Linked DNA regions of Homo sapiens: region 1 is linked to region 2. The links come from fine-mapping of genetic effects on gene expression. Tissue or cell type: neutrophils. Region 2 holds a variant in brackets; the other region holds the start of a gene. All regions are shown on one strand. Distances are between the middles of the regions.

What was found. PIP is the estimated chance that this variant, and not a neighbour inherited with it, causes the effect.
Region 1: VPS25 starts here. The variant in region 2 is fine-mapped to the expression of VPS25 in neutrophils (BLUEPRINT, PIP 0.91).

What each region holds. Positions count from the first base shown.
Region 1 is chr17:42,770,072-42,778,167 of GRCh38, forward strand. It overlaps VPS25 (vacuolar protein sorting 25 homolog), which reads left to right and starts at 3,378. Exons shown (of 6, transcript NM_032353.4): 1 at 3,378-3,457; 2 at 3,662-3,807; 3 at 4,575-4,628; 4 at 5,310-5,398; 5 at 6,174-6,249. The coding sequence starts at 3,405. RefSeq lists enhancers at 3,270-3,469, 3,553-4,100, 5,540-5,834.
Region 2 is chr17:42,387,419-42,395,522 of GRCh38, forward strand. It overlaps STAT3 (signal transducer and activator of transcription 3), which reads right to left and starts at 1,024. Exons shown (of 24, transcript NM_139276.3): 1 at 861-1,024. RefSeq lists silencers at 365-444, 675-954 and enhancers at 1,475-1,744, 5,921-6,190. The variant ATTT/A (reference allele first, on the strand shown) is at 3,897.

The DNA.
Region 1 (8,096 bases), 380 kb after region 2:
GTGCACCACCATGCCTGGCTAATTTTTTGTATTTTTTGTAGAGACGAGGTTTCACCATGTTGGCCAGGCTGGTCTTGAACTCCTGACCTCAAGTGATCCGCCCACCTCGGCCTCCCACAGTGCTGAGATTACAGGCGTGAGCCACTGCAGCTGGCCTTTTCTTTTTTTTTCTTTTACCCAGAAACTAAGGTCACAGGAACTGTGCGCGTGAAGGATTTGGGTGAGGGAAAGGTTGGAAATCAGACAGAAAATTGAGATCAGATGATGACAAGGTCAAGGTTTGTACTTATTTATTTATTTATTTATTTGATACAGAGTCTCGTTCTGTCTCCCAGGCTGGAGTGCAGTGGTGTGATCTAGGCACTGCAACTTCTACCTTTTGGGTTTAAGCAATTCTTGTGCCTCAGCCTCCTGTATAGCTGGGATTACAGGCATGTGCACCAACACATCCAGCTAATTTTTGTATTTTTAGTAAAGACAGGGTTTCACCATGTTGCCCAGGCTGCTCTCCAACTCCTGATCTCAAGTGATCCGCCCGCCTCAGCTTCCCAAAGTGCTGGGATTACAAGTGTGAGCCACCACGCCCAGCCTGTACTTTTTTTTTTTCTTTAAGAGAAAGGGTCTTGCTCTGTCATCCAGGCTGGAGTGCAGTGGTGCGATCATACCACACTGCAGCCTCAAACTCCTGGGGTCAAATAATCCTCCTGTCTCAGCCTCCCAAAGTGTAGGGACTACAGGCATGTGTCACCATGCCTGGCTAATTTTTAAAATTTTTTGTATAGATGGAGTCTTGCTATGATACCAAGGGATGTAAATATCATTATTATTGGGCCAGGTGCAGTGGCTCACGCCTGTAATCCCAGCACTTTGGGAGGCCGAGGCGGGTGGATCACGAGGTCAGGAATTCGATACCAGCCTGGCCAAGATGGTGAAACTCCATCTCTAGTAAAAATACAAAAATTAGCCAGGTGTGGTGACGCATGCCTGTAGTCCCAGCTACTTGGGAGGCTGAGGCAGAATTGCTTGAACCTGGGAAGCAGTGGTTACGGTGAGCCGAGATCGCGCCATTGCACTCCAGCCTTGGTGACAAGAGCGAAACTCCGTCTAAAAAATATATATATATAATTATTATGATTATTTTTTGAGATGGAGTTTTGCTCTTGTCGCCCAGGCTGGAGTGCAATGGCGCGATCTCGCGTCACCGCAACCTCCGCCTCCCGGGTTCAAGCGATTCTCCTGCCTCTGCCTCCCAAGTAGCTGGGATTACAGGTGCCCACCACCACGCCCGGCTATTTTTTTGTATTTTTTAGTAGAGACGGGGTTTCACCATGCTGGCCAGGCTGATCTTGAACAACTCCTGACTTCACGTGATCCACCTGCCTCGGCCTCCCAAAGTGCTGAGATTACAGGCATGAGCCACCAAGCCTGGCCAAGGGTTTACATATTTTTAATTAAGGAAGACCTGTGCATATTTATAGTATATGGGAGAGGAGCTAAGGGCAAGGGCGAGAGGGAAGATGATAGAGAAGTCCTGGAGGAAGTTGAAAAGGGGAGGCAAGAACATATGCCAAAGGGTGCAACACTTCTTCTGAGTCCAAAAGGAAGGAGTAGGCTGGATGCGGTTGGTAATCCCAGCACTTTGGGAGGCCGAGGTGGGCGGATCACTTGAGGTCAGGAGTTTGAGACCAGCCTGACCAACATGGTGAAACCCCGTCTCTACTAAAAATACAAAAATTAGCTGGGTGTGGTAGCTCATGCCTGTAATCCCAGCTTCTAGGGAGGCTGAGGCAGGAGAATCGCTTGAACCAGGGAGGCAGAGGTTGCAGTGAGCTGAGATCAAGCCACTGCACTCCAACCCGGCAACAGTGCAAGACTCCGTCTCAAAAAAAAAAAAAAAAAAAAAAAAAGAAGGAGTAAAAGTGGAGAGAAATTTTTGAGCGATGAATCAAGTATAGAGACAGACAGAGGGAAAACTTAAAGGGTTCACATGCATGGCCTCAATCTCATAAAGCAGGAATGAAAGGCGTTCTGCAGAGAGCAGAGACATGGGGACAGGTGGAGTGCCTTGATGAATGTGGAAAAGTTTGAATAGTTATCTTGAGGGTGACGGAGTCAATAAAAGACAAAGGATCACAGAGCTGCCCTTAGAGCCCGGTAGTGAGGCTAGTCAGGGAATCTAGGGCTTGGCAAACATGTTCTGGTTATTTTTCTTCCAGCAATACTCCAGAGCCCAGGAGTGAAAAAAAGAGGTGGGGGAAATGGAGCAACGATCATTGGTTTGGGAACTGACCTGTAGGTAGGTAGGTAGGTAAGGGGACAGAATTGAGTAGTTTAGGCTGGGTAAGGAGTCTGATAAAACCAAAAGGGGTCCTAGGTCTTGAGACAAGAAAGGCGAGGTCATGGCAGAGGTGAGAGATGGGTGGTTGTGGTCAAAGCCTGCAGCTCTGAATCATGGAAGTAGGGCTGTCTCTAGTGATTCAAGCTACAAAGTGTGCTCCCATGGGTGCTGCAGGAGCCTGAGGAATGGTGAAGTCAAAGGAAATTGGAGGGCCGGGTTGGTCACCTGTTATCCCTTTGGGAGGCTGAGGTCTGGAGATCGCTTGAGCCCAGGAGTTTGAGACCAACCTGGGCCAACATAGTGAGTGCCCATCTCTAGAAAATATTAGCCGGGTTGCTGGGAGCGTTAACTCACTCCTGTAGTCCCAGCACTTTGGGAGGTCGAGGCAGGAGGATCACTTGAGCCCAGGAGTTTGGTGAGACGCCCATCTGTACCAAAACAACAACAAAATGTATTTAATAACTGGGTGCGGTGGTGTGCACCTGTAGTCCCAGCTACTCAGGAGGCTGAAGCCGGACGGTCGCCAGATCTCAGGAGGTAGAGGCTGCAGTGAGCTGTGATTGTGCCACTGTATTCCAGCCTGGGCAACAAAGGGAGACCTTTCTCAAAAATAAATAAACAGATAAATAAATAAAAAATTAAAAATAAAACAAAGGACATTGGAATTGAGCTTGGGTAATTGTGAGTTGATCAAATTAAATGGCAATTCACAGAAATGTTAATATTAAAAGAAGCCTAGTATAGAGGAAACAAAGGTAGGCTGGGATCTGGAGATCTGGGCTTTATTTGCCGTTCTACTTCAGCAACAAAAATTCGCCGCTTTGGGGAAGACATGACCTTTCTCTGGGGTTGAACCAGAAGACTTCCCAGGACTCTTCCTGCTCCAAAAGATAGGGCTTTTTAGGATAACAGCGAGGGACTGGGTCATGACGAGGACTCCTCCTGCCGGTCTCTCTCTTTCCAGAAAGGCTTCCGGAACCTTTCTGCATTGCCTTCTGCCCGGACGTGCGGAAGCGAAGGCCGGAAGTCCTTAGCCGGTAGCTTCCGGGTTTCCTGGGCTACTACGATGGCGATGAGTTTCGAGTGGCCGTGGCAGTATCGCTTCCCACCCTTCTTTACGTGAGGCTCAGACCCCAAGAAGCACCGCTGTGCCTCCCTCCCCTCCCCCGGACCCTGGGCTCAGCCCTGATGCTTCATATGGGGAGGGGGAGAAAAGACCCGTCGGCCAACACCCTCAGTCCCTTACTTTCTTCCTGAAATGCGTCCCGGGCAAGTGCTGCCTCCCGCCCTCTAATTCTGCGCCCCACTCCCTTCACCCGGCAGGTTACAACCGAATGTGGACACTCGGCAGAAGCAGCTGGCCGCCTGGTGCTCGCTGGTCCTGTCCTTCTGCCGCCTGCACAAACAGTCCAGCATGACGGTGATGGAAGCTCAGGAGAGCCCGCTCTTCAACAACGTCAAGCTACAGCGTATCCTCCCTCAGGCTCTTCCACAGCCCATACACATGCACTTCTGCGCTTTCACACATGCCCAGACGCCCCCCCGCGCCAGCCCCCTTTTACCCATGGTAGGCAGATTCCCACCCAAACTGGACTTAAAGAGTGAAAATGTGTAGCTGACATTTTCCCCTGGCAAATGCAGTACCATACCCTCTTGTTCTTGGCAGTGATGACTGCTCGGATGTCATTAAGGTCTTAGAATTTCTGCCCTGAAGCCAAGTTCCAAGTTTTTTAACCTAAACCCTTTTGACTATTTGTATCTTCCATCCTTTTCTGTGTGAGGCCCAGACTTGGGTAACTACCTTTAATTATTTTCTCTGCCCCCCTCCTGCCAGGAAGTAAGGGTCATTTGTTTTTGCTGCCTGATTCATCCCTAAAATATCTGTGGAGAAAGGCTGAAGGAAGGCAACAGACAGAGGGTGAGGAATGACAGTACCTTTCATTTTCTAAAGCTTCTTTCTTTCTTTTTTTTTTTTTTTTTTGGAGACAGGGTCTTCCTCTCTTGCTCAGGCTGGAATGCAGTGGCACAATCACATAAAGCTCCTTTTAATTGGAAGAGTTTCTCTTTACCTTCCTCCTTTGAATATCCAGGAAATGCCAATTCATATCATGTTGGGAAATTGCACACATATGTGTGTGGGAGAGGAAGGGGCAGGTGTTTCTCAACATGGGACTGGCTCTGAAAATTTTTATCCTACCCAACTCATGTGTATGCCGTTCCCTTAACCTTAAACCAGGAAAGCTTCCTGTGGAGTCGATCCAGATTGTATTAGAGGAACTGAGGAAGAAAGGTGGGTTCAGTTCCCCAGATTCCTTATTTTTCTTCCTAGTTGGGTTTTCCTGAGGGCAAATTAGGATAAGTCTTTTTCCCTTTAATAACTTTTTCTCTCTCCTGGCTTGAAGGCCAGAGTCTTCTGTAAAGTAGGCAGCCCAATTCCCAAGTCCTTTCTTCTTTGTACACAAAATTGAAATCTCTGTCTGTGCCCTAAACCTGAAGAGAAGTGGAAGAAGGATGAGTGCCTTGTAGATAATAATAGTAAAATAAATATTGAATCTTTCTTTCTGAAAGCTGAGTCTCTTCCACTCTGTCCCACCTTGGTATTTTTTTGCCTCTTTGTTTCTTTTTAGTTCATGATACTTTTTTTTTGGGTGGGGAGATAAGGTCTCACTCTGTCATCCAGGCTGGAGTGCAGTGGCTCAGTCCTATCTCACTGCAGCCTCGACTCCCAGGCTCAAGTGATCCTCCCATCTCAGCCTCCTGAGTAGTTGAGACCTCAGGCATGTGTCACCACACACCTGGCTAATTTTTTGTATTTTCTATAGAGAGAATTTTTTTGTATTTTCTGTAGGGTCTCATCATGTTGCCCAGGCTAGTTTCGAACTCCTGGGCTCAAGCAGTCCTCCCGCCTTGGCCTCCCAAAGTGTAAGCCACTGCGCGCCTGGTTATGCTTTCATAAGTATCTGTTTTACAGGGAACCTCGAGTGGTTGGATAAGAGCAAGTCCAGCTTCCTGATCATGTGGCGGAGGCCAGAAGAATGGGGGAAACTCATCTATCAGTGGGTGAGATCATTATTCTGCCAAGTATTCAACAGTGACCCATGGAAAAGGTTAACTATATTAGGGCCTAGCAGATAGCCGGTGTTCCCAGATCCAGACTGAGCAAAATGGGGAGGGGGCAGAAAGAGGAAGTGTAGGCCTTCTAGGGAAACCTCTTTAAGTGACTCAATGTCTTTGGCTGCATAGAACCTCCCTTTCTTTGCCTGTAGGAGGCCGGGGGCTATGTGAGGCCATATTTGGAGAATGCAGAACTGGGAACCCTGAGTGCTATTGTTGGCTGGAGCCTCTGGCCACAGGAGATAAATGGGGAAAGGAAGGGAAAAAACCTGGGGCCCCTCCCCCACTGCACTGTTATGGGACTGTCCACAACATGAATGAGATATTCTGAATCAGTGTGGGTGTGGGGACAGAATACTCTTCCCCCTAAACCACCAGTCCCAAACATTCCCAAGGAAGAGAAGAGGGTAAGAAGCATCAACATTCTAAATATAACAAATACACACCATCCATTCTTGAACAGGAAAACAACCAGAATGAGAGGTCAAGGTCACTCCTCAGACACGTGAAGACCTGTGGTTTAGTGGTTCCAAATGAGTGTGTACACATATAAATATAGCACTTGTAGGGTTTATGGCTTTTAGGCCACTCTGCAGAGGCGACAGTGAGTCCTGGTTTGGGAATAGGTATCATTCCTGGATCAGAGGGGTGGAGCTGATGAATTTACTGTCTCCCAGGAGATTCTTGGTTCTAATTCACTCCTCATTTTCTGTATTCACAGGTTTCCAGGAGTGGCCAGAACAACTCCGTCTTTACCCTGTATGAACTGACTAATGGGGAAGACACAGAGGATGAGGGTAATGCCTTTCCCTTCCCACTCATAGTTAATTTTTTGTTTTGTTTTGTTTTGTTTTTCCGATATGGAGTCTTGCTCTGTCACCCAGGCTGGAGTGCAATGTTGCAATCTCGGCTCACTGCAACCTCCGCCTCCTAGGTTGAAGCGATTCTCCTGCCTCAGCTTCCTGAGTAGCTGGGATTACAGGTGTGCGCCACCACGCCTGGCTAATTTTTTGTATTTTTAGTAGAGATGGGGTTTCACCATGTTAGCCAGGTTGTTCTTAAACTCCTAACCTCGTGATCCGCCTGCCTTGGCCTCCCAAAGTGCTGGGATTAGAGGCGTGAGCCACTGTGCCCCGCCTGTTTTTTTTTTTTTTTTTTTGAGACAGAGTCACTGTATCCCAGGCTGGAGTGCAGTGGCGCAGTCTCTGCTCACTGCAACCTCCGCCTCCTATGTTCAAGCGATTCTAAGTTCTTAACCCATGTCCAAGGATTCCATAAGCCACCTGAATTCACATGCAAAAAATCCCAAATTTTGTTTTTGTGGATGCATGTGCATTTTTCTAGGGATAGATTAGATATTACAAGATTTCCAAGGGCATCTATGACCCATGAAAAGTTAAGAATTTCACTTTCAGCTGGGCACAGTGGCTCGTGCCTGTAATCCTAGCACTTTGGGAGGCTAAGGTGGGAGGATTGCTTGAGGTCAGGAGTTTGAGACCAGCCTGGGCAACACAGGGAGATCCTGTCTCTACAAAAAATTTAAAAATCAGCTGGGCATGGTGCTGTGCACCAGTAGTCTCAGTTACTCAGAAGGCTTAGGTGGGAGGATCACTTGAGCCCAGGAGGTCAAGGCTGCAGTGAGCTATGATCACGCCACTGCACTCCAGCCTGGGCAACAGAGCGAGATGCTATCTTAAAAAATAACAATAGGCCGGGTGCAGTGGCTCACGCCTGTAATCCCAGCACTTTGGGAGGCCGAGGCAGGTGGGTCACCTGAGGTCAGGAGTTCCAGACCAGCCTGGCCAACATAGTGAAACCCCGTCTCTACTAAAAATACAAAAATTAGCCGGGCATGGTGGTGCATGCTTGTAATCTGAGCTACTTGGGAGGCTGCAGCAGGAGGATCGCTTGAACCCGAAGGCAGAGGTTGCAGTAAGCCAAGATCGCACCACTGCACTCTAGTCTGGATGACAGAGCGAGACTCCGTCTCAGAAAATAAAAATAATAACAATAAAAAAAATTATAAATAACTTTCTTCATTCAGCATCTGCTATAGATGCCGAATGAGAAACAAGGGCAGGGGATTAAGCTTGAAATCTCATTCCTTGCTGACTCAGGCTCTCTTTCACCCTTTATTCTTATAGAGGGCTCAAGATCTGTGGGTGTCAGCTGAAGAGATTAGGCCAACACCCCCAGCCCATTTATATACTTTGGTTTCTGGCCAGGCAAGGATTTGTATAGTGTTTGATTTTTACATAGCGTAAACACTCTTAGTTCTTTTTCTCCGACTCCAGATTCTGATCCTCTGGATCACCACAAGTTTCGATCTTAGCTGGGATAACAGAGGGTGTCTCCCCTTTCTGCCAGGCCCTGGCTGCCCTAGCAGAGTTTATAGCTCTTGGCTGTTCCCCCTGCTGCCCTGCAGGTCTCTGCTTGCTACTCCCACCATCACCCCATGATTTCAGCACTGTAGCCTTGCCTAGCCCACCACTCAGGTTGGGCAAAGTTGTAGGTTTCCTCAGAAAGCAAGCTCCCTGACTTAGCTGAGCCCCCACAGGGGGTGAGGTAAGCAAGCCTGTCAGGGCTTGCCTGCTGCCTCCCACATCTCCCTGCAGTATCTTACCATATCTCCACATACTCAGCT
Region 2 (8,104 bases):
CACTCTCAATTGGTTCATTCCGTCCTATGCAATTAAGCAACACCACAATCCAGTAAATGCAATGGCTCAATTATTTATCTTCTGGCCGACTTTACCAGGTATTTGGAAAAGGACAATGTCAAGAGGTTTATTTCTCTCTCTAGAGCTGGCTTGACGGGTTGATGGGGATTTTATTTTGTCTTTTTTTCTCTTTTTTACAAGGCGGGGACGTGGGGGGAGCATAATTTAACCTAGAAAAAGATGCGAGGGAATTTAGAAAGAGTACCGGTCTGTCAATTTCCCTACAGGAAACTTGATTCTTATGCAATAAAGCCTACCCACGACCAGCCAGCCCGTAAGGCTGCAGGCGACAGACACACCTATTCCTGCCTCCAAAAGGGCACAGCTGTCTCCTGAAGGAGCGGGAACAGGGCAAGCGGAGGAAGTGGCTCAGCGGGAGCCGCCGACCGGGCGGGGAGGAGGCGCTTTCCGACCCCCCACTCGCGCCGGTGATCCCCGTCGGCGTGACAGTCGCTCCGGTGGCCGGAACGTCCCCAGGGCCCCAGGGAGCAGGAAATCGGGGGACTGTCCCTCACTCCTGCCGCCGCAACCGAGTGCGCCCTCGCCCCACGGTGCCCCCTCGAGCGCGTTCTGTTTCTCCGAAGAACGAAACTTCCCTCCAGCGCCCCGAGTCCCTTCCGAGGCCCGCTCCTGTCATCCCGAAGAGTCTTCCCTCAGGGCGACCCTCCGCGTCTCTTCATCTCTCCCGGCCCCACTGCAGCGTCCATCACAACATCCCCAAGGTCCCAGAGGCCCCCTGCCGCTGCGGAGCCCCCGGGTCCCCAGGCCTCCCCAACGGCCCCACCCTGCACCCCCTTCACCTGTTTCTCCGGCAGAGGCCGAGAGGCCGGGGCTGCGCGTGTGCCGGGGACGGGCGGCGAGGCTCCCTCAGGCCGAAGGGCCTCTCCGAGCCGAGGGGGAGAGACAGCGCCAAGCCGGGGTGCCTGTCCAGGATCCGGTTGGGGCTTGTTCCCTCGGCTGCGACGTCGGAACCCCCGGCTCCCCCTCCCAGTCTGCGCCGCCGCAGCTCCGGAAACCGCTGAATTACAGCCCCTTCAGCCAATCCTCGCCCAGCCCCAGCCTGGCCGAGGCACGCCGTCATGCATAATTCATGAAAGGCCAGCTCGTTCGGCCACCCAGAGGTCCCAGTGCGTGTGCGGTACAGCCGAAGCCCCGCCCACTGACCAATGAGGAGAGCAGCTAGGAGAAAGGGCGGAGCCAAGAGGAGACTGATACGCCCCTGTGCTGGCTGTTCCGACAGTTCGGTGCTCCTCCCTCCGCCACAGCGAGGGAAGAGCCGAGGACTTGGGCACAGAAGCCCGGGGGGAGGGAGGGAAGATGACCGGAATGTCCTGCTGAAAACTCAGCTGAGTTCCTGGCAGTGCGTGACGTCAAGGCACTTTAAATGCCCCTGATACAGCTCCCTCCTGCCCGCTCTCCCTTTTCCCGGCCCTTGGCACCACGTGGTGGCGAGGTTGAGAGCCTCTTACCACGCGGGAATCAGCTAGTTAGATAGTCCCCAGGTATCTCCAGATCCTCTGGGGACCCAACTCCTGAATTGGGTTCTGGGGACAACAAAAAGAACATGGGTGACTCCGCCTGCTTTGAACTTCAGTTTCTGCGTGAGCAGGGACACACACACCCGGAAACATGACGTGGAAATAGAGTAATTACTAGAGTGCGTGGGGAGAGGGTAGTGGATTTAACCCCGTACTCCGTTCCATCACTTCAAGCATCAAACGCCGACCAGCTAGCCCATTGGCCCGTACAGGCGAATGCAGAAGACGGTGTATACGAAAGCTGATAACGTGTAGGGCTTGACATTTTTATGCGTCTGAATTGAAATACATGAAATGTTCTGCCTTTTTCTTTTCCACCTTGCCTACTTGGTATGCAAGTTTTACTGAATTGAAGCCAGTGGTTGATAGGAAATGTAGACATTTTGCCTTTCATAATAGAGGATGAACTTTGCATAATGGAGTGATTTCTGTGTATGTGCTGATACTATCAGGGTTTTTAATTTTTATTTTTTTGGGTCTTTAAAAATATGTTATTAATATTTGTGTTTGTTTAATACGAACAGGTATAAAGACAAAAATCTAAAAAGGACCCATTATCTCACTGCTCAGCTAACCCCTGACATATTTTTTTTCAATGAACCTAATACATGTTCCTGTTTAGAAAATGCAGACCGTTCAGAAAGGTCAAAAATATTAAATGAAAATCTTTCCCTACCCCCATCATTCCTTCTCCCCAAGGATAGCTGTTCTTATTAATTTCTAGTGAGAAAAATCAATGACTCTTAACCTTTGAAGGCAGTCACAGATCCTTCTGAGTGTTTGAAGGAGACTAGATTCTAGCCCCAGAAACAATACAAGGTTTTACTCACATGGTTCCCCAGATACCTGAAGCCTGTCTAAGTCTACAGATTCAGACCGCTCGTACCACCTCATATCCAATGAGGGACAGAGGCATCTACAGGGCAATTCATAGGGTCACTGGTGGTGAGAATTGAGAACCTCCTATTGCCCTCTGGTAGACACAGCTCAGTATGGAAATTGCTGTATTTACCTGTAGAGTGTGTGTGTATTGATTAGGCTGTTTATCTACACCACAGGACAGATATCCCCCATCTCCGCCTATAGTCTCTTGTAACTACGCTATCCCGTGCGGCCAACTGCCTCCCTGATAACATAGGGTCTAGGATTTGTTTAGTGATTTACTGCTTACAAAGGACTTACACACCTTATACACTCCCTGCCTGGTTTCTTTCTCACAATCATGAATAGCAGATAGGAGAGGCCATATTATCCGCTGATAGAAAACTAAAGACAACATAATATGACATTTTCAAGATCACAGAGAAACTCAGAAATATACCAGGTTCAGAGTCAGGTTTGGGGGCTTTACGTCCCATAGCTTTGTTCCATTCATTCAAACCCTGCCCTGCTTCTGACTTCTCAAGAGCTGGCCTCTGTTTCCCTCATTGGCCTCCCCACCAGTAACACATAAAATCTACCTCTGCGACTATGGGTTTGACCTGCAAAAATTCTCTTCAGCCCAGACACTGGCCTTTCTCCACAACCCCGCCAAATTCCTCTTGGCTAAATGCTGCAATTTCTGTCCCTTGGGCCACTGCCTTAACCACCTGATTATTCTCTCCTTATTCTATCCTATTCTTCCACTGGCTGCCAGGGACATCATCCTAAAAATTAAATAAATAAACATTCAGGCCAAGGCGGGTGGATCACAAGGTCAGTTCAAGACCAGCCTGGCCAACACAGTGAAACCCCGTCTCTACTAAAAATACAAAAATTAGGCTGGGCACTGTGGCTCACGCCTGTAATCCCAGCACTTTAGGAGGCTGAGGCGGGCAGATCACCTGAGGTCAGGAGTTCGAGACCAGCCTGACTAATATGATGAAACCCTGTCTCTACTAAAAATACAAAAATCAGCCAGTCATGGTGGCTTGCACCTGTAATCCCTGCTACTCGGGAGGCTGAGGGAAGAGAATCTCTTGAACCCGGGAGGTGAAGGTTGCAGTGAGCCGAGATCGCGCCATTGCATTCTAGCCTGGACAACAAGAGCGAAACTCCATCTCAAAACAAAAGTAAAAATTAGCTAGCCATGGTGGCACGTGCCTGTAGTCCCAACTACTCAGGAGGCTAAGGCAGGAGAATTGCTTGAACCCAGGAGGTGGAGGTTGCAGTGAGCCCAGATCCCTCCACTGCACTCCAGCCTAGGCGATAGAGCAAGACCCTGGCTCAAAAAAAAAAAAAAAAAAAAATTCAATCATGTCACAGTCGGCTTAAAAATCTCTATGGTTCCCTACTACCGGCAAGATAAAATCCAAGTTA[ATTT/A]TTTTTTTTTTTTTTTTTTTTGAGACAGAGTTTCCTCTTGTCGCCTAGGCTGGAATGCGATGGTATGATCCTGGGTCACTGCAACCTCCGCCTCCCAGGTTCAAGCAATTCTCCTGCCTCAGCTTCCCAAGTAGCTGGGACTACAGGTGCCCACCACCATGCCCAGCTAATTTTTGCATTTTTAGTAGAGACGGGGTTTTACTGTGTTGGCTAGGCTGGTCTTGAACTCCTGACCTCAAGTGATCCGCCCACCTCAGCCTCCCAAAGTGCTGGGAGCCACCGTGTCCGGCCAATCCAAGTTAAATTTTAAAAATGCTGACCAGGCACAGTGGCTCATGCCTGTAATCCTAAAGCTTTGGGAGACCGAGGCAGGAAGATCATTTGAGGCCAGGAGTTCGAGATCAGCCTGGGCAACATGGCAAAACACCAACTTTACAAAAAATTAGCCGGGCGTGGTGGTGGCATGCCTGTAGTCCCAGCTATTCTGAGGACTGAGGCAGGAGGATCACTTGAACTTAGAAAGAAGTTCGAAGTTACAGTGAGCTATGACTGTTCTACTGTACTGTAGTCTGAGCAACAGAACAAGACCAACCTTGTCTCAAAAACAAACAATAAACAAAAAGCTGACCATTTAATTCAGTGCCATGGCTGGGCGCGGTGGCTCATGCCTGTAATCCCAGCATTTTGGGAGGCCGAGGCGGGCGAATCCTGAGGTCAGGAGTTCGAGACCAGCCTGGCCAACATGATGAAACCCCGTCTCTACTAAAAATACAAAAAAATTAGCTGGGCATAGTGGCGGGTGCCTGTAATCCCAGCTACTTGGGAGGCTGAGGCAGGAGAATCGTTTGAACCCGGGAGGCAGAGGTTGCAGTGAGCCGAGATCATGCCACTGCACTCCAGCCCAGGCAACAAAGTGAGACTCTGTCTCAAAAAAAAAAAGAAAAAAGAAAAAAACACCATAATTCAGTGCCATGCATGTGGTAGGAGCTCAATTGATGTTCCTTCTTTCTCCCTCTTTATTTGAATCATAAAATCCTACAGGCCCAGCACAGTGGCTCACGCCTGTAATCTCAGCACTTTGAGAGGCCGAAGCGGGTGGATCACCTGAGGTCAGGAGTTCAAGACCAGCCTGACCAACATGGTGAAAGTCTGTCTCTACTAAAAATACAAAAATTAGCCAAGCGTGTTGGCGGGCACCTGTAATCCCAGGTACTCGGTAGGGTGAGGCAGAAGAATCGCTTGAACCCAGGAGACAAAGGTTGCAGTGAGCTAAGATTGCACCATTGCAATCCAGCCTGGGTAATACAGTGAGACTCTGTCTCAAAAAAAAGATAAATTCCACAAAGGCTGACCTGAATCCCCCCTTTTCTAACCTAGTCCCACAAACCCTACTAAATGTGTTACCTTCCTCCAAACATGTCTACACCTTCTGCAACTTCATGCCTCTGTGGATAGTCTTCCTTCTACCTGGAATCTCTTTCCTCAGTCCCTACCTGAGAACTCTTACTCATTCTTCAAAGCCCTGTTGCAACATCACCTCCTCTAGGCTTCCTTCTATTCTTACTGGCAAAGTTAATCTCCTACCAGACTCCTTCGGCAGGTTGTTTCCCCATCTAGAATACATTCTCTACCTTGAATTCTAATAAATCCACATATTGGCCTACTTCCTGAAAAAAAACAATAATTAACATTGATTAAGTAATTACTACTATATTCCAGGAACTGTGCTAAGCATTTTACATAGATTATCTCATTTGATCCTCACCAGAACCCAGTGAGGGTAATATTATAATTCTTATTTTACAATTGAGGAAACGAAGACTGAGAAAGTGAAAGACTGGCTCAAGACTGGTCTCACAGCTAGAAACTAGGTGGAAACTCAGAATGAAAATCAGGTCTGGCTGACTCTCTGGCCACGTGCTAACAAACATCTTCCCCTAAACTGTGGGTTCCTGGAAACTTGAACCCCTTAAGCCCTGTCTTCATAATCTCAGCATCTATCATCTAGCCTAGAGCTCACCTAAGACTGAATTAATTAAATATTAATAAATAAGTCTTGAGGCCTGACGTGGTGGCTCATCCTGTAGTCCTAGCACTTTGGGAGGCTGAGGCAGGCGGATCACTTGAGGTCAGGAGTTTGAAACCAGCCTGGCCAACGTGGTGAAACCTTGTCTCTACTAAAAATACAAAAATTAGCTGGGCATGGTGGCGGGTGCCTGTAATCCCAGCTACTTGGGAGTCTGAGGGAGGAGAATCGCTTGCACCTGGGAGGTGGAGGTTGCAGTGAGCCGAGGTAGCACCACTGCACTCCAGCCTGGGCGACAGAGCGAGACTCTGTCTCCAAAAAAAGTCTTGAATAATGACATCAGCATTAACAAACACAGAGTGTTGAATATGTACTAGCCACTGTTCTAAGAATGTAATTCATGTAACATATCTGTGAACTCATTTAATCCTTACAATAACCCCATGAGGCAAATACTGTGACTTTATAGATGCAGAAAATGAGACTTACCTAAGGCTAAGTCACTTCCCCAAGAACATACAGCTGGTAAATGGCAGAGCCAGGATTCAAATTCAAGCACAGTTTGTCTAAATTGAGAGCTTTATATCTGTTTTTCCTTAATTATAACTATATTTGTGTCCAAAATTCTCGTTAACCCTGTGAGAACTGCTTCACCTCTTCCCCGAAGGAATTAGCAGTAAAACCCAAAGTCAAGAGGAAAGCATAGCAAGAAAGAGAACCTTGGGGATGGTAAGTGGGTGGCAAGTCACTGTGGTGACCAAAGGGAGTAAGGGGCAACCTGTGAGGGTGATGAGATCTTCATGGGGTTCAGCAACAGAAAGGCTCACCCAGGGCTGCCCAAAACTCCCACTAATATCACAGTGAAGAGCAGGTCTGCGCAACACAAACTCTTTGGGCCTTCTCTCTGCCAAAACACCTCAGGCATCGTTATGCAGATATGTCTCTTTCCTTCAGTCTGAACAGTCCTCCCCACTCAATATTTTCTTTTTTTTTTTCCTTTTTTGTTTGTTTGTTTTGAGACGGAGTCTCGCTCTGTCGCCCAGGCTGGAGTGCAGTGGCGCAATCTGGGCTCACTGCAAGCTCCGCCTCCCAGGTTCACGCCATTCTCCTGCTTCAGCCTCCCGAGCAGCTGGGACTACAGGCTCCCACCACCACGCCCAGCTAACTTTTTGTATTTTTTTTAGTAGAGATGGGGTTTCACCGTGTTAGCCAGGATGGTCTCAATCTCCTGACTTTGTGATTCACCCACCTTGGCCTCCCAAAGTGCTGGCATTACAGGCGTGAGCCACCGCTCCCGGCCTTTTTTGTTTTTTGAAACCAAGTGTCGCCCTGTCGCCCAGTCTGGAGTGCAATGGCACGATCTTGGCTCACTGCAACCTCCGCCTCCTGCAAACTCCTGACCTTGTGATCCACCCACCTTGGCCTCCCAAAATTCTGGGATTACAGGCGTGAGCCACCGCGCCTGGCCCCCAGCTCAATATTTTCAAGGCTATGATGTTTTTTCCTGTATCGCTTAACACATCATTCATACCATGTCCTTCTTTTCTTCCAGTCAATTCTCATGGGGCTTTGGATACAGTTCTTCTTTATCTCATCTCCTTCAAGGCCCTGCCTACCCCACCTACATCTCTGCTGCCCACTAAATTCCAGCCAGTCCACTTCCCAGCTCAGGACCTTTGCATATGCTGTTCCTTTTCCTTCCCCGGCTTTGGCGTGGCTGTTTCCTTGTTACTCCAACAGACCTTGTCTAACCACTCCTATCTAAAGTTATTCACAGCCTGTTAATCCCTATTTCTATATCCTGTTTCCTGTGGAATTCATCACAGTTCTTTTCTATTTATTTAATTTTTTTTTTTTTTGAGACAGAGTCTCGCTCTGTAACCCAGGCTAGAGTGCAGTGGCAAGATGCTGGCTCACTGCAATCTCCATCTCCCGGGTTCAAGTGATTCTTCTGCATCAGCCTCCCGAGTAGCTGGGATTACAGGTGCCCACCACCATGTCCAACTAATTTTTGTGTTTTTAGTAGAGACGGGGTTTCACCATGTTGGCCAGGCTGGTCTCAAACTCCTGACCTCAGGTGATCTGCCTGTCTTGGCCTCCCAAAGTGCTGAGATTATAGGCATGAGCCATCGCACCCAGCCTTATTTTATTTTATTTTTTGAGATGGAGTCTCGCTCTA